Linked DNA regions of Homo sapiens: all the other regions are linked to region 3. Evidence: fine-mapped expression QTL. A gene starts in region 3. Each other region holds a variant in brackets. All regions are shown on one strand. Distances are from middle to middle. Region 1 overlaps D2HGDH (D-2-hydroxyglutarate dehydrogenase). Region 2 overlaps D2HGDH (D-2-hydroxyglutarate dehydrogenase). Region 3 holds the start of D2HGDH (D-2-hydroxyglutarate dehydrogenase).

Region 1 (5,980 bases), 36 kb before region 3:
GCCGGGAGCAGCCGGGAGCAGCCGGGGCGCACGCACGTTACCCTCTTCAGCCGACACTGCAGGCGGGCGGGCAAGCCCAGGGCCACCTCGGGGCAGGGGCAGGGGTGGCCTAGCTCAGAACAGAGCAGTCAAAGGATGGAGTCAGCTTCTAGGTCTCAGATCCCGGGTCCGGGGCTGCAGGAAGGAAGTCTCCTGCCCCGGGCAGGCAGTGGTCGACTGTGGGCTGGGCGCTGGCAGGAGGTGGGGGCCCTACAGAACTCCCGGCCAGTCCTTCACCAGTCCAGGGCCACCCATCCGCCCACGTCCACAGAGGGCCGAGGCCACAGCCCCCAGCACTGTGCTTTGAAGTGGGCCCTGCTCCACGGTCTCTGCTTTCCGGAGTCAAGGGGCAAACCCTCACCACCAGGAAGAACAGGTTTCACCCCTTCCACCGGTGACGCTGAACACCCCTGGCCGCTGTGCATCCCATTCCCTCCCTGTCCCCAGGGCCCCAGGGCCCCAGGGCCATGGAACCCGGAAGGTAGCTCCAGGTGCCACACACTCTGCCAGAAACAAAGGGAGCATCACCTCGCTTCCTGGCCTCTGTTTGCACAGCCGCTGGCACAGGGCCTGTGGGGAGGGGCGAGGCAGGAGCCAGGAGGCCGTCTGAGGACCTGCCCACAACCCAACAGGACCCCAGCCCTGTCAGGCCGCACCCGGGCACACCCAGGAGGCACCTCCGTGCCCGTCCGCCAGGCCGGGCACTGTTCTAGAAACTTCACAGCAACTCTTGATCTCCCAGAAGGGCAGGTGGGGAGACAGGGCCCATGCTCCCTCGAGAGGATCCCCCTCTGGGGGTGGGTGCAGGAGGGCAGAGCCTTTGACTGGGGCTGCCAGGACCATGACCCCCACCAGCCCTTGTGGCCTCCTGGGTCCTGCCCTGGTCTGTCCTCCCCACACCCCTGAGGTCCAAGGGGCAGTGCTGGGGAGCACTGCCAAGGGCTTGCGCCCGCCCTGGGTCTAACCGGCTAACAAAGCGAGGAGGGGCCCGTCCCGGGGCCTCAGCCTGGGAGCAGACAGCCGCCCCAGCTCCTTGCCTGTGGGGTCCAAGGAAAAGTGAGTGGGAGGGCTCAGGTCTGTGATGTTCCACCAGGAGGAACCCGGCCCAGGGCCTAGGTGTCAGGAGGGCTCTCCTAAGACAGCCCCGAGCTTCCCAGCCCCTCCACCTGCCCCTAACCCTCAACTCAGGCTCCTGGTCCACCCCAAGGGCCCCCAGCCCTCCCCGTCCCAGGCAGCGCCACATTCTAGCAGCTATTTGCTCTCGGCCTCCCTGACCAGCTCCTTTTTATTTTTCCAGAGAGGGTCTCGCTCTGTCACCCAGGCTGGAGTGCAGTGGTGTAGTCACGTGGGGCTCCCCACAGCCTCGACCTCCTGAGCTCAGGCTTGTCCCTCCTCCCCTGTAAGAGCCTCCTGTAGCTGGAACTCTAGGTGCATGCCACCACGCCTGGCTATGTTTAATTTTTTGTAGAGGCAGAGTCTCACCATGTGTGCCCAAGCTCTTCTCAAACTCCTGGGCTCAAGCAATCCTCCCACCTCGGCCTCTCAAAGTGCTGGGATTCCAGGTGTGAGCCACCGCGCCCGGCCCTGGACCAGCTCCTCGAGGAATCATTTTTCACTCCTCTGCATCGTTTGGGTGGGTGTGGGGGTGGACACGCCTACCACACAGGCAGCTTCAGGGTCCCAGAAGGTCAGTGGCACCCCAAGGGACCCAGGCCGAGGGTAGGGCCTTTTCAGGTCACAGGTGCTCAGAGGCAGCAGAACAGGACCTAAACCCCGAGCGCTCAGGAAAGCAGCCGGCGTGAAGCCACATCGCTGGGGGGCCAACGCGCCGGGCCAGGTGGGCAGAGCCCTGGTCACTGGTCGTTAACGTGCCTGCCATCTGGGTCCAGACACACTGCCCTGTACGCCTGTCACCTCTGCCTCCATGTGGGCGAAAGTACCTAGGTGCCGAGGCAAGAGACTGAAGGCACAAACTGTTTCAGTATAATAAAGAAAATAGTTGGAATAAGATTAGTCATAATACAAATTAGATATAGAGATGATCATGGACAATTATCAATCATTATTATAAACATTATTAATCATTAGCTTTTAATATTACTCTTTGTTGCATTTCATACTCCTCCTGTACTCCTGGTTCCTCTTTGAAGTTCGTAGCAGATAGCGGTAAAACAAATAGTGAAAGTCTTAAAGTCTTTGATCTTTCTTATAAGTGCAGAGAAGAAAATGCTGACGTTTGCTGCCTTCCGTCTCTGCTTCGGCTACCTAAAAGGGAAGGGCCCCCTATCCTGTAATCACATGACTTACTTCACCTTGTCAATCACTGAGAAGATTCACCCTCCTTACCCTGCCCCCTTGTCTTGTATGCAATAAATATCAGTGGGCCTAGCCCTCTGGGACCACTACTGGTCCCCGCGTCTTGATGGTAGTGGTCCCCAGAGCCCAGCTGCTTTCTCTTTCTCTCTTTATCTTGTGTCTTTATTTATTACAATCCCTCATCTCCACACACAGGGAAAACACCCGCTAAGCCCCGTAGGGCTGGACCCTACACCTCCACACTGCCAGGATCCTGATGGACGTCCTCAGGGGCCTGCGGCGTCCCAGGAGCCCCAAACCCCAAACCCTTCCTCTGGGCTCTAAGTCCACAACTGTCAGACACCTCTGGGTCCCAACCACTTGCCCTTCTGCTTACAGGAAACTGGCTCCCCCAGGGGCTCTCCCAGGGGCCAGCCGTCCTGGGGGAGGGGAGGGGCGGGCACTCCACTCTCCCTGGGGCTGAGACCACCCGGCCCACCCCTTCTCCCCTCTCCCCTGCTGTACACAGGCAGCTCTGGCCCTGCCTGGGGCCCCTCCCACCACTCTCCTGGCCCCCTCCTTGGCCTCAGCTCAGGGGCCCTGGTTGTGTAACATCTTCTCAGATTGCAGCAGCTTAGAGGTCTTAATGTGACAATCACCAGCTTCTAATCCGAACACAAAGGCCGCCCCTGAGCACCCACCCCGCCCCGACGACCCTGGCTGGAGCCGCTGCAGAATTCCGTCAGAACCCGCCAGGCCGGAGCTGCTGCGGAAGGAACGGGGCCAGAACCCGCCTTCCTCCCCACACACGTGCTCCTCATTGCTCTTTCCGCGTGGCTGCAGGCCTCGTCAGAGCCTCCGGCTGGGAGGTTGGGACGGCGTGGAATTCTCTGCGCGTCTCTTACACACACCTGACCACGGACACTCAACGCCGTCACATGGCCGTTGGGGGAGCTGTCTCCGGGGCACCAAGGCTGGTGGCCTGCCTCACGCAGATTCGCCGCGTTCTCCTGCGTCGGAGTCACTCGGAGTCTGTGTTAACCCGCGGGCTGCGAGAACACGGCCTGCCTGGATGCGATCGGGTCTCATCAGATTTTCCTGCTGTCAGGTAGAGAAATCTAACAGGTTTCCGGCTTGTGAAAACTCCTGGCCTCCCAGCCACCACGCAGTGTGGGTTTTCCTCATGGCAGACAGGCAGTTCTTCGGGCCAGCTCGGGCCAGCCAGGTGTCTCACCGGCACCTGCTTTGCCTGGCTGTGTTGTATTTCACATATCTAAAGGCACAAAAGAAAAGCCTGAGGGGGATCTAAGAAGCCCCTCTCCCCATTGCTGGATAAACTGGAGGTGAACATGGCAGGGCAGGGCAGCAGCGGAGACGGCAGGACCCAGCCACGGAGCTCCAGGAACAAGTGCCCACGGCTGGCAGCAGGGCTGTCATGGGCAGGACGTGCCCGGCACTGGCCTGCTCCGGCCCAACGGTCACCGCAGCCTCCTGGAGCCGGACCCCCAGGGAAGAGCAGCCGCAGCCTCTTCCTCCTCCAACAGTCCTGGACTGTGTCCGCTTCCCCAGTCCCCAGAGGCCCAGCGGAAGGCAGTGTGGATGCAGAGGTCTTGCTCTCCCAGGGTCCAGAGGGCACTAG[G/A]GGGAGGAATTCCTCCTCCCCCCTCTGCAGGCACTACCAGCGGGTGTCCCTCAGCAGGCAAGGCCAGGCCTCTGCAGCCCCACAGCCCATGCTGAGCCCAGATCCTCACGGGAAGCCCGGGGCTCTGGGCTTTTCCCTGTCACCCGGCTGGCCTCTCCAACAACAGGAGTGAGCATTTAGACCACGACCAGGGCCGGAGGTCCTTAGGAAAGCAACGGACCCCAGCTCTGAGAATCACAAGTCCCTACCCAGGGTGGGACGTGGGGTCGTGCGGCCAGCACGGGCAGAAGCTTGAAAGCCCCCAAGTCACCCCTGGGCCAGCAGCAGCCACCCAGGGCAGGAGGGCAGGTGCACAGCCAGGGTCAGCGGGTCAGCAACTCACCCTGGCCTGCAGCCTACCCAGCACGGACCATGTGCCCAGTAGCAGAGCTAGAGGAACAAGCAGAAAAATGGCCGGCCCCCAACCAGAGGTCAGAGGGAAGGGCAGGAGCCGCCGGCTGACCTCGGGGGACGCGGGCACACGCTGTGGGGCTTCGTGTCAGGCACCCATGGGGCCTGGGGTCTGCTCTGTGCAACAGATACTGTCGGGCTGCCCATGGGTACCCAGCCTGGGATGGCAGAACAGTGGCCAGAGCCCAGGGACAGAGCCGGGCCTTGGCCAGTGAGGCAGGACAGCCCCAGGTGCCCCCAGGCACAGCAGGAAGTAGCCCAGGCATTGGGCGGGACCCACTGGCTCTGCTGGGCCAGCATGAAAGTGCCCCTGATTTGTGCCTTCAAAGCATGCTGGATCGGCTGGACGCAGAGGCTCGGGCCTGTAATCCCAGCACTTTGGGAGGCTGAGGTGGGAGGCCGCTGGAGGCCAGGAGTTCAAGACCAGCCTGGGCAACACAGGGACACCTCATCTCTACAAAAAAAAAAATTTAAAAATTATCTGGGCATGGCCGGGTGCGGTGGCTCATGCCTGTGATCCCAGCACTTTGGGAGGCCGAGGCGGGCAGATCATGAGGTCAGGAGATCAAGACCATCCTGGCTAAGAAGGTGAAACCCCATCTCTACTAAAAATACAAAAAATTAGCCGGGCACGGTGGTGGACACCTGTAGTCCCAGTTACTCGGGAGGCTGAGGAAGGAGAATGGCGTGAACCCGGGAGGCGGAACTTGCAGTGAGCCAAGATCGCACCACTGCACTCCAGCCTGGGTGACAGAACAAGACTCTGTCTCAAAAAAAAAAAAAAAAATTATCTGGGCATGATGGCTCACACCTGTACTCCCAGCTACTCAGGAGGCTGAGGTGGGAGGATCACTTGAGCCCAGGAGGTGGAGGCTGCACTGAGCTGTGACTATACCCCTGCACTCCAGCCTGGGTGACAGAGTGAGATCCTGTCTCAAAAAAAAAAAATCATGCTGGACCAAGGCCCCCACCCATCCCCCGAGGACCTCCACCAGGAGGACGTGGCCTGTCCACACAGAGGCCCTGGCTAGGCAGGCGGGCTCTGCAGGGCAGCGGGTCAGAGGTATGTTTCCCCCTCTGAGCAGGATCCGAGGTCCTCGACACCCACAGGGACAGGAGGGGCCCGTGGATACACCTCGGTCAGGCCCAGCTGCTGAGGGCCTCCAGGGCCACCAAGGGTTATGAGTTGCCCGTTCCATGTCCAGGCCTGCCCTGTGCAGCCGGTGGGAGCTCAGCTGCCACCAGACAGTGCATGGGGACAGGAGGCACAGTGACAGTCACAGTAGTGTCAGGCCCGGCCACACTATGGCCCCAGTGGTCCAGGGGCTGTGGGAATGGGATGCACAGGCCCTTCACAATGGGCTCTGAAAGATGATTTTCCAGTAACAGAAGCAAAGAGAAGGTTGCAACCAATTCAGATTTTTACTGGACATTCATGACAGAATGAGATGTGCATCCAGCTGCATCGCCCAGCCCATCCGCTGCCCAGGGCAGCTGACGAGCAGAAACACACTCTGCAGTGGCCCTTGTCCGTGCCGGGGCCCTCGCCCGCAGCAC
Region 2 (5,980 bases), 24 kb before region 3:
ATCCACTGAGGAAAAGACATTTTTATCAACTAAATCAGTACATTTCCAGACAAAGAAAATCTGAGCTGTTCCGTCACCTATTTTTCCATGCCAGGGAAAATTCTGGAGGCTGAGATTCAAGCAGAAGCTGTGTGCAAACTGGCTACGCAGAATCAGGATGGTGACATGGTGACAGGGTTATGTGTGACTGAACAAGGCAGAACCAGAATACACCACCGAACAGCATGCAGGTGCCCCTCAGTGTCCCTGGGGGACTGGATACAGGACCCCTCGGATATCAAAATCCTGAGATGCTCGAGTCTCTGACAGGAAATGGCATAGGATTTGCATATAAACTACACACATCCTCCTGTATACTTTTCTTTCTTGAGACGGAGTTTCGCTCTTTTGCCCAGGCTGGAGTGAAGTGGCACAACCTCGCCTCACTGCAACCTCCGCCTCCCAGATTCAAGCAATTCTCCTGCCTCAGCCTCCCAAGCAGCTGGGATTACAGGCACACGCCACCATGCCTGGCTAATTTTTGTATTTTTAGTAGAGATGGGGTGTCACCATGTTGGCCAGGCTGGTATTGAACTCCTGACCTCCGGTGATCCACCCGCTTTGGCCTCCCGTATTGCTGGGATTACAGACGTGAGCCACTGTGCCCGGCCCCTCCTGTATACTTTAAATCACCTCTAGATTACTTACGATTCCTGGTACGACGGAAATGCTGTGTCTGTCACTGTTATACTACATCGTCTTTTGTTTATTTTTTATTGTTGTATTGTTATTTTTATGGTTGAATCTGCAGATGTGGAGCCCGCAAATACAGGGGCCACCATAAACTGGGGGGTAAACGACAGCCAAAGTGACGGGGCCCTGAAGTCCTCGCACTGTGCAGCCATCAGGGCTCCCAGAGAGGCAGAACCAGCAGGATGTGTGTGTACAGACAGTGCGAGCAAGAGTGAGATTATACATATTTAGAGAAACAAACAGAGAGAGAAAGATGGAGAGACACACTGAGACACAGGGAGATGACAGACACTGATTTTAATGAACTGACTCATGTGACTGAGGGAGCTAAGTCTAAAATCTGAAGTCCAGGTCAGCAGGCTGGAGATCCCAGCAGGAGCTGGTGCTGCAGCTTGAGTCTCCATCTGGGTCAGAATCCTCTCTTCCTTAAGAGATCTTAGATTTCTGCTCTTGTGGCCTTCGACTGATTGGGTAAGGCCCACCCACGCTGTGTCGAAGTCCTTCGACTGATTGGGTAAGGCCCACCCACACTGTGGCAAAGGACTTCGACTGATTGGGTAAGGCCCACCCACACTGTGGCGAAGGACTTCGACTGATTGGGCAAGGCCCACCCACGCTGTGTCAAAGGCCTTTGACTGATTGGGTAAGGCCCACCCACGCTGTGGCAAAGGCCTTTGACTGGGTAAGGCCCACCCACGCTGTGGCAAAAAGCCTTCAACTGATTGCGTAAGGCCCACCCACGCTGTGGCAAAAAGCCTTCGACTGATTGGGTAAGGCCCACCCACGCTGTGGCAAAGGCCTTCGACTGATTGGGTAAGGCCCACCCACACTGTAGCAAAGGCCTTCGACTGATTGGGTAAGGCCCACCCACGCTGTGGCGAAGTCCTTCGACTGATTGGGTAAGGCCCACCCACACTGTAGCAAAGGCCTTCGACTGATTGGGTAAGGCCCACCCACGCTGTGGCGAAGTCCTTCGACTGATTGGGTAAGGCCCACCCACACTGTAGCAAAGGCCTTCGACTGATTGGGTAAGGCCCACCCACGCTGTGGCGAAGTCCTTCGACTGATTGGGTAAGGCCCACCCATGCTGTGGCGAAGGCCTTCGACTGGGTAAGGCCCACCCACGCTGTGGCGAAGTCCTTCGACTGATTGGGTAAGGCCCACCCACACTGTGGTGGGAGATCTCCTGTACTCAACGTCTACTGATTTAAATGTTAATCACACATAAAAAATATCTTCACAGAAACATCCAAACTGGAGTTTGACCAAACGAGGGTACCAGGGCCCAGACAAGTGGACGCAGAGAATTCACCATCACACATTATTTGGGAGGAAGATAGTGACTCTGATTAACCTCAAACCCAGAGGGCTAGAAATGTCCACTGTGGTGCCAGGGCGACCACCAACAGTTAGTAAACGGCAAAAAGCTAAATGACAAAGAACATAAACCAGAAGAGCAAAAAACAGAGGAAAAAATAGACAAGAAGTGAGAGACAAAGAGCAGGGTGAAGTAGACAAATCCAAACAGTGGGCCACAGCACGTGCTCAGCAGCCAAACGCTCTCATTCAAGACGGCAAACAAGTACGCAAGAAACCTGTCCGGGGGCGTCCACAAGAAACACATCTAAATCACTAAGGATGGAAAAGCTGAAGCTAACCGGAGGAAAAACAACACATCAGGCAAACACTAAATAAAAGAAAGTTAGCATCACTGTGTAATAAACAAAGCAGACACCAAGGCAGCGGGCAATGCTGGAGATAAAGAGCGAGTCCATCGCGTTAGGAGATTCAGTTTCCCAAAACAAAGAGACGAACCTCATGTCCTATGCCCCTAAGAACACGTCTCCAGAACTGGCAAAGCTACAGGAGGAACAGATTAGTCTGTTGTCAGCAGATTTCTAACACCTCCCTCAGGGAGTGGCAGGTCAGCAGGATGTAGAATGAACACGCGACGTATACTTCTATCTGATGGATCTGTACAAACACTGATTCCAGCAACTGCAGAGAGCACATTCTTTTCAAGCACTCCACAGTTACGAAGGCTGATCATAAGCTGCCACTGATCAAGTTTCAAAAATCTGATCTGATAAGGACGAAGTTTCCTGGGTATAATGCAATAAAAAAGAAATCAATAATTTTTAAAATAACTAGAAAACCACCACGTTT[G/A]GAAATTAAGAAACACACTTCTGCATAACTCATCGGTCAAAGAAGGAATGATAATGCAAGCAGCAAATAATGCCAGGCACAGTACCTCACGCCTGTAATCTCTGGCTTTGAGAGGCCAAGGAGGGAGCATTTGCTTGAGGCCCCGGAGTTCAAGACCGGTCCGGCCACACAACTGGCTCTACATGAGTCTGGCTCTACACACACACACACACACACACACACACACACACACACACACATATATTGTGGGGCGGGGGGCGGTATAGATCAGATGTCACTGTGTTGCCCAGGCTGGTCTAGAACTACTGGACTCCAGTGATCCTTCCAGCCTTGGCTTCCTGAAGTACTGAGATTATAGGCGTGAACCACTGCACCGGGCCTACAAAAAAATTTTTTTTTAGTTAGCCAGGCCTGCTGGTGTGTGTGAGGTGGCGGGCCTGCTTGATCCCAGAAGGTCGAGGCTGTGGTGAGCCACTGCACTCCAGCCTGGGTGACAGCGAGACCCTGTCCCCACCAAAAAAAAGGGTGTGGGGGCATCCCACAAATGCTACATAAAAAGACAACAAAAGAATATTCGAACAACTTTATGCCAATATGGGAAAAAATTAGCAATACCAATCTAGAAGAAAGGAAAGCTTGAAAGTCCTAAAGCTATTGAAGAAGCTGAGCTATAATTTTAAAATACTCCCTCAAAAAAACCTCCAGGCCCAAACAGCTCCACTGGCAAGTTCTGCATAATATTCATGTTATGATTTTGATACCAAAATCCAGCATGGACAGAAGAAAGGAACAGCGTGGAACAGAATCATCCACCAAGACCCCTGTCAAAATCCCACACCAAACATAAACAAACTCATCCAGCAAGATACAGAAAGGATCATGGCCACCTTGGGCCTACCCCAGAAACACAGACTCATCTGACTCCAGAGGGATCAATCAGTGTAACTTACCACACTGATTACAGGCAGACAAGCACCCGGTCACCATGACAGATGCAGGAAACACATTTTAAAAATTCAACATTCATTCTTGCTTTTTTTTTTTTTTTTGAGATGGAGTTTCACTCTTGTCACCCAGGCTGGAGTGCAATGGTGCAACCTCTGCTCACTGCAACCTCCGCCTCCTGGGTTCAAGTGATTCTCCTGCTTCAGCCTCCCGAGTAGCTGGGATTACAGGTGCCTGCCACCATGCCCAGTTAATTTTTTGTATTTTTAGTAGAGGCGAGGTTTCATCATGTTGGCCGGGCTGGTGTCGAACTCCTGACCTCAGGTGATCCACCCGCCTCAGCCTCCCAAAGTGCTGGGATTACAGGCATGAACCACTGCGCCTGGCCCATTCTTGCTTTTACAAAGTAACAGAGGGCTCATTCCATTTCTCACCAAGATGGTCTGCTTTATCTGTGGCCAAGAGAGACTGAAGTTACCTGGAGAGGAGGAAGCCTCCTCCTGGCTTGAGGTCATATTCTGAAATATTGGGGATCCCGTACCCCTCTTCTCTGGATGATGACACACTCATCATGCCCTTAACCCCTTCCCATATTCTGAAATATTGGGGCTCCCGTACCCCTCTTCTCTGGATGATGACACACTCATCATGCCCTTACCCCCTTCCCATATTCTGAAATACTGGGGCTCCCGTACCCCTCTTCTCTGGATGATGACACACTCATCATGCCCTTACCCCCTTCCCATTCAGGAGTCCTGCCTTCCTATCACAGAAGATTACCATCCATCCTATGTCAAATCCTCCAGATGTACCCCTCCACAGGCTGGGCAACTTTGGGCAAGTTACTTAAATTCTCTGAACCTGTTTACATGTGTGTAAAAGGGAAGCAACACCACCAGTCCTAAAAGCTGTTGTGCAGAGAAGTTTCTCCACATCAAGTGCTTAGAATAATGCCTGGGACAGCACGGGACCTTCGTAAGTAATACGTGTTATTGTCGTCACGTACACAACCCTAGACCCTCCTGTAACCACAGAGGTGGCACCTGAATCCCATTTACTGGCAGATGGATGGAGGCTTCAGGTCAGTGACTCCAGTGCCACCAGGCCAGGGAAGAAGCCAGAGTGAATATCTGTCAGGCCCCAAAGCCATGCTCCACACCCCCAGCACTGCCCCCACCCCTGCCCTATAAGCTGGCCTTTTAGACACCTCGCTCCAAGGCTCCAAAGAACTGACAGGAAAACAGCTGGGCACGGTGGCTCACTCCTGTAATCCCAGCACTTTGAGAGGCCGAAGTGGGCAGATCACCAGAGGTCAGGAGTTCAAGACCAGCCTGGCCAACATGGCAAAACCCTGTCTCTACTAAAAATACAAAAATTAGCCAGGCCTGGTGGTGGACGCCTGTAATCCCAGAGACTCGGGAGGCTGGGGCAGGAGAATTGCTTGAACCCAGAAGATGGAGGTTGCAGTGAGCCGAGATTGCGCCACTGCACTCCAGCCTGGGTGACAAGAGTGAAACTGCGTCTCAAAAAAAAGAACTGATAGGATTGAAACATTTTCTTCCTATGAATTAATAGCTTACACGTTAAAGCATGATTTTTCTGCAGAAAAAAGATGATCTGAACGTGGTTTTGAAATCCTCCCATCTGAAGGGGTAGAGCAGCTGGGGGCTAAGCACTGCAAAGGCCTCGGGGCCGGGCCCTGTGAGAGGAGCCCCTGAGACCCGCATCCCGGACTCCGGGGTTAAGGCTGATGCCCTCCAACCCTGCATGCCACTGAAGATCCCAGAACGTTCTGACAAGCTGAGCCATGCGCTCTGCCATTACAAGTGCACGATGGCAGTCTTTTCCAAAATACTCAAAACGAGTCATGACAACGATTAGGATTTTCCCTTCCCTGTCAGACACCGTGGTCCTGCCAGTGTCTACGGGAGATATGCTAAGCCAGAGACCATGGTCAAACTGCCCTGCCTCGAAGCCTGGCAGGGTGACGGTGACCGTGGGGCCCACCACCCAGCACACACAGGGCCGCGGCCCCGGGGCGCCGCTCACCAAGGTGGCCATAGCCCACCACGTGCTTGGCGTGCGGGCCGAGGCGGGCGCGCAGGTCAGTCACGATGTCGTAGAGCCGCTCCACAGG
Region 3 (5,980 bases):
AGCTTGAGATCGCCCCAGAGGGGTCCTTACTTCGGGAGCAGGGTGAGGGTGGGGGCCCTTCCACTCAAGAGAGCTCCTACACAGTGACCATTGGTCCAGCGATTTCCAGTGACTCCCAGCCTTTCTGCAGGGAAAGAGCTGCTTCCATTATCTGAGCCTAGACCCCAGTTCAACTTGCTAACTTTCTGAACTGTTTTAACATACGCTGCACTCCCAGATTACACGGTCTGGAAACTTTCTGAGTGTTCTTAATAATTTCAATCTTCTACAAGGGCCAACAAAAAAAAGATAAAAACAATTCCAGATCTTCCCAATGACAGCACACCCTATGTTCAGCCCCAGGACCTGGTGCCAGTTCCACAGGTTTAAATATATCATTTTGTTGTAAATTAAGAGTCAACCAATTCTCTTCTACCTCGCTTTACTATTTTAGCACACAGACACATGCCACCATACCCGGCTAATTTTTAATTTTCTGTAGAGATAGAGTTTCACCATGTTGCTCAGGCTGGTCTTGAACTCCTGGGCTCAAGCGATCTCCCACAGAACTGGGTTACAGGCGTGTAACCCAGCTGTAGTCCCAGCTACTCAGGAGGCTGAGACAGGAAAATCGCTTGACCCCAGGAAGTGGAGGTTGCAGTAAGGGGAGATCGTGCCACTGCACTCCACCCTGAGTGACAGGGCAAGACTCCATCTCAAAAAAATAAAAAAAGAGAAAACTGGGCACTGTTACCAAAAGGAAGTGCCAGCCCCAGAGGCTGAGAAGTCCCTCATTCGTGCACAGACTTGTATGCCACTGGGCAGAAGTGCAGTGGGAGGAGAGGAGCAGGCATTGTTGGCCAGGAGCCCTGCATCTTACCTAATGGGCTCCAAAAAGATACGTCTGCTTCCCAATGCCCCAAGACCTGTGAATGGGACCTTATTTGAAAAAATGGGGCTGGGCATGGTGGCTCATGCCTGTAATCCCAGCACTTTGGGAGGCCGAGGCAGGCGGATCACGATGTCAGGAGATTGAGACCATCCTGGCTAACACGATAAAACCCTGTCTCTACTAAAAATACAAAAAGAATGAGCCGGGCGTGGTGGCGGGCGCCTGTAGTCCCAGCTACTCGGGAGGCGGAGGCAGGAGAATGGCGTGAAGCCAGGAGGCGGAGCTTGCAGTAAGCCGAGATCACGCCACTGCACTCCAGCCTGGGCAACAGAGCGAGACTCCGTCTCAAAAAAACAAAAAGAAAAAACGGTCCAGCTAAGTGCAGTGGCTCATGCCTGTCATCTCAGCACTTTGGGAGGCCAATGTGAGTGGATCACCCGAAGTCAGGAGTTCGAGACCAGCGTGGTCAACATGGTGAAACCCCGTCTCTACTAAAAATACAAAAATTAGCCGGGCATGGTGGCGGGCACCTGTAATCCCAGTTACTTGGGAGGCTGAATTGCTTACACCCAGGAGGGGAAGGTCGCAGTGAGCCAAGATTGCACCATTGCACTCCAGCCTGGGCAAAAAGAGTGAGACTTCATCTCCAAAAAAAAAAAAAACGGATAAACGGTCTTTGCAGATGTAATTAAGTTGACAGTACTGAGATACGATCATCCTGGATTAGGGTGGGCCCTCAATCCAATGAGAAGTGTCTTTATAAGACAACTGGAGAAGAGTCACAGAGAAGAAAAACCTGTATGAAAAACAGAGGCAGAGACTGGAGTAATTTGGTACCTGGGGCCACCAGGAGCTAGAGCTACAAGAGGCAGGAAGGAGCCTCCTCTGGAGGCTTTGGAGGGAGCGCAGCCCTGTGATACCCTGATTTCACACTTTTGGCCTCCAGAGCTTAGAGAACAAACTTGTGGGGTTTGGTGGGGAGGGGAATTCTGTTTTGTTTTAGAGATGTAGTCTTGCTCTGTTGCCCAGGCTGGAATGCAGTGGTGAGATCATAGTCCACTAAAACTGGAACTCCTGGGCTGGAGTAACTTTTTTACTTTTTGTTTTTTCAATCCTGGGCCGGCTACTTTTATTTATTTATTTTTATTTTTAGAGGTGAGTGGGGCGGGGGTTCTGGCTATGTTGCCCAGGCTGGTCTTGAACTCCTGGCTTCAGCCTCCAGGGCAGCTGAGATTACAGGCAGAGCCACTGCGCCAGGCAAACTTGGGTTGTTGGCAGGGCGGGGTGGCTCACGCCTGTAATCCCAGCAATTTGGGAAGCCGAGGCGGACGGATCACGAGGTCAAGAGATCGAGACCATCCTGGCCAACATGGTGAAACCCTGTCTCTACTAAAAATACAAAAATTAGCGGAACGTGGTGGCGGGCGCCTGTAGTCGCAGCTACTAGGGAGGCTGAGGCAGGCAAATCGCTTGAACCCGGGAGGCAGAGGTGGCAGTGAGCCGACGTCGCGCCACTGCACTCCGGCCTGGCGACAGAGTGAAACTCCGTGACTGCACTCCAGCCTGGCGACAGAGTGAGACTCCGTCTTAAAAAAAAGAAAAAACAAAACAACAACAACAACAAAACTTGGGTTGTTCTAAGCGACTCGTTCGTGGTCATTCATTCCAGCAGCCTGTGGCGGTGCACACGCCCCTCTCAGCGCAGCCAGGGGCTGGCACCCCCATCCAGGTTGTTCTCAGCCCGCTTTGAAGCCTCCACGGGAAGGCGCAGCGGAGCAGGGACGCGGAAACGCCGCAGCTTCCCAAGCCTCACCCACCTCGCAGCGTCCGCAACCAGTCCACGTTGGGAGCCTGCAGCGCTTCCGGGTCCGTGACGACCCCGCCGGGCACGATGCGCTCAAAGGCGGCCAGGTCCTGCTTAGACACCGTGGAGAACGGCAAGCGCCGCACGGGGTAGCGCTCCCGGGTCAGCGGCACCTCGGGGGTCCCCGGGGCGGAGCAGCAGCCTCTGCGGGCCAGGGGGCCAACCGGCCGACCCCAAGAACCCGCGGCTCCCGGAGCACCCCGCAACAGCCACGCGGGCCACGCCAGAGGCCGACGGGGCAGCATCGCCGCCGGGACGGAGACCTCGGGCTCCTCCTTGGTGGGGGGCCGGTACTCAGGGCCCGGAGGGGAAGGGCAGGGAGCCGCTGGCTGCGCGCCTGGAAGTGGCCAAGGGTAATTTCATGTTTTATGCACGTTGTACAAATTGAAACACGCTTGCAGAAGCAGGGAGGGGGCAGGAGGGCAGCGAAGGGAAGGCTCCGAGCACCCGGGCCCTCCCCCTGCCCGGGCCGCAACCCCGCGAGCGCGCGAAGCCCCACGCAGCAGGCCTGGACTTAGCGACGCGCAGGCTCGGGGCGGCCTCGCCGGGACCTTGCCCAGGACCCCGTTCCTCCGAGCTCGCCCCCCGAGGGGATCCCGCGGACGCGCGCGCGTGTTCCACGCGGTCACGTGACGAGCTGCAGCGCCGTCCCCCTCCCCCCACAGGCACCGACTGGCTGACGGCGCCCGAGATCGCGCCCCGCCACCCCGACCCGCGGCTGAACCGCAGACCGGGACCCTCAGCCCAGCGCTCCGCGCGGCCGCGCGCACGCACCCACGATCACGTCCCGAGCTCCAACCCGCAGCGCCCGCCGCAGGCCCAGAGCCGCCGAGCCGGAGTGGGCGGGGCGACGCCGCGCCTGCGCATTGACGGCTCCGCCCAGCGGCCGAAGCCCCGCCCCGCGCGCCTAACGGGCCCCGCCCCGCCTGCCCTCCAGGCCCAGCCCTGCGCGCCTACAGTCCCCGCCCCGCCGTCCAAGCCCCGCCCCGACTGGCACCGGAGGCTCGACGGCCACCGCCTCGTCCTGCGTTTCCTGAGGGCCTCCGGCGCGCCGGCTGTCGGGCGCATCCCTCCAGGTAGAGAAGGGACTAGGCTGAGCGCAGCCCAAGACGCCCAAGCAGCAGCTGGAGGGTTCTCCAGAACGAGGCCCGGGACGTGGGCTCGGCCGAGGGACCTGGGGGCCGGCCCGCTCCTCCGAGGCCGAGCCCAGGGGGCGCCCCTTTCCCCAGCGGCCTCCCCAGCTCCTGCACGGACCACCCCTCCTGGGTCCCCAGCCTTAGCTTAGGGGGCAGCTGCCTCCTGCAGGTGTTTTCTTGCCTCCCTGTCCCTTCTGCCTGTTCAGCCCTCCGTGCCCTCAAACCCTTTGCACACCTGGGGAGCTCCTGCCCTCCTGACGCAGTAACTGCTGTCCCGAGGAGCCTCCCGGCCTGGGATCCCCTGCCTGAGGCATCGCCAGCACTTGTTTTGTGTTTTTTTGAGACAGGGTCTAGCTCTGTTGCCCAGGCTGGAGTTCTGGGGTTGATCTCAGCTCACTGCAACCTCTGCCTCCCGAGCTCAAACCATCCTCCCACCTCGGCCACCCAAGTAGCTGGGACTACGGGCGTGCACCACCACACCCGGCTAATTTTTTGTTGTTGTTGTATTTTTGTAGAGATGAGGTCTCATGTGCTGCCCAGGCTGGTCTCGAACTCCTGGACTCAAGCGATCCGCCCGCGTCGGCCTCCCAAAGCACTTGTTACTTCAGCTCACCCAATTCCATAGAACCCTAGCGGGTGCAGAGGATGCCAATCTCTGAGCAGATGAGGGCAGAGAGCAGGAGACCACACTTGGCCCGAGGCAGGACTGCGGAGCTGTGCAAGAGGTGGAGGCTACGCCCGTGACAGCAGATGGGTCCTGGTAGTCACACAGAAAACCGGCGAGCTGGATTTGTCCTGGTGATGAGGCTCTGGAGCAGCAGTTGCAAGGAGTCATTCCTGTCCTCCTTAACCACATCCCCAGAGGCCACTCACCTTCTTCCCAGGTGAATCATTCATACAACCCTGGAAAGGAGACATCCACCTGGCCCTTCCTACCTGGCTGGCCCTTGCTCTGCAGATGAGTGTGGGAGTTTGCCCATTGTCAAGGGTAACTGTTGCAATTACACATTCAGGAACTGGAAAGACGACCACAGATGAGGTCTGTGGACCCCCTTACCACCTGACCTCCACACGCCCTCCCTTTGACTAGCAGGCCAGTGGCATCTTGGACCCCTGGGATTAGGAATGATTCAAAACCCATAAAGATTACCACCCATACCATCCCCTAAAATAACTGATTTTTCTGACCAGGCACGGTGGCTCACGCCCATAATACCAGCACTTTGGGAGGCTGAGGCAGGTGGATCACCTGAGGTCAGGAGTTCGATACCAACTGTGGGCGGCAAGCCACCCAGGTGCCGAGGCAAGAGACCGAAGACACGAGCTGTTCCAGTATAATAAAATAAGAATAGTTATACCAGATATAGATCTTAGATATGATTATATATGAATATCATTAATCATTAGTTGGTAGCAATTACTCTTTATTCCAATATTATAATAATCCTCGCTCTACAATCATAACCTAGGAAAAACCAGGCCATACAGAGATAGGAGCTGAGGGGACATAGTGAGGAGTGACCAGAAGAGTGCGAGCCTTCTGTTATGCCCAGACAGGGCCACCAGAGGGCTCCTTGGTCTAGCGGTGACGCCAGCGTCTGGGAAGACACCCGTTACCTAGCGGACCGTGGTCTAGCGGTAGCGAAAAGTGTCAAGAAACACCACCCGCTACTTAGCAGACCGGAAAAGGGAGTCTCCCTTTCCCCGGGGGAGTTTAGAGACGACTGTACTCCTCCACCTCTTGTGGAGGACCTGACATCAGTCAGGCTCGCCCGCAGTTATCCGGAGGCCTAACCGTCTCCCCGTGATGCTGTGCTTCAGTGGTCACGCTCCTAGTCCGCCTTCATGTTCCATCCTGTACACCTGGCTCTGCCTTCTAGATAGCAGTAGCAAAATTAGTGAAAGTACTAAAAGTCTCTAATAAGCAGAAATAATGGCGTAAGCTGTCTCTCTGTCTCCTCTCTCTCTCTGCCTCGGCTGCCAGGCAGGGAAGGGCCCCTGTCCAGTGGACACGTGACCCACATGACCTTACCTATCATTGGAGATGGCTCACTCTCCTTATCCTGACCCTTTGTCTTGTATCCAATAAATATCAGTGCAGCCTGGCAT

Evidence for each region.
Region 1: its variant is fine-mapped to the expression of D2HGDH in nucleus accumbens (GTEx, PIP 0.94).
Region 2: its variant is fine-mapped to the expression of D2HGDH in Th2 cells (Schmiedel 2018, PIP 0.95). The same link has a PIP of 0.9 or more in Th17 cells.

Annotation. Positions count from the first base shown.
Region 1 is chr2:241,768,658-241,774,637 of GRCh38, reverse strand. D2HGDH (D-2-hydroxyglutarate dehydrogenase) reads right to left here. Exons shown (of 10, transcript NM_152783.5): 10 at 5,827-5,980. Among named protein-coding and RNA genes, the nearest start is that of GAL3ST2, 5.2 kb to the left of the region's middle. RefSeq lists an enhancer at 2,963-3,875. The variant G/A (reference allele first, on the strand shown) is at 3,974.
Region 2 is chr2:241,755,927-241,761,906 of GRCh38, reverse strand. D2HGDH (D-2-hydroxyglutarate dehydrogenase) reads right to left here. Exons shown (of 10, transcript NM_152783.5): 9 at 5,893-5,980. Among named protein-coding and RNA genes, the nearest start is that of GAL3ST2, 18 kb to the left of the region's middle. RefSeq lists a silencer at 987-1,187. The variant G/A (reference allele first, on the strand shown) is at 2,899.
Region 3 is chr2:241,732,225-241,738,204 of GRCh38, reverse strand. D2HGDH (D-2-hydroxyglutarate dehydrogenase) reads right to left here and starts at 3,575. Exons shown (of 10, transcript NM_152783.5): 1 at 3,510-3,575; 2 at 2,689-3,072. The coding sequence starts at 2,980. RefSeq lists an enhancer at 2,509-2,748 and silencers at 2,789-2,898, 2,909-3,958, 3,999-4,048.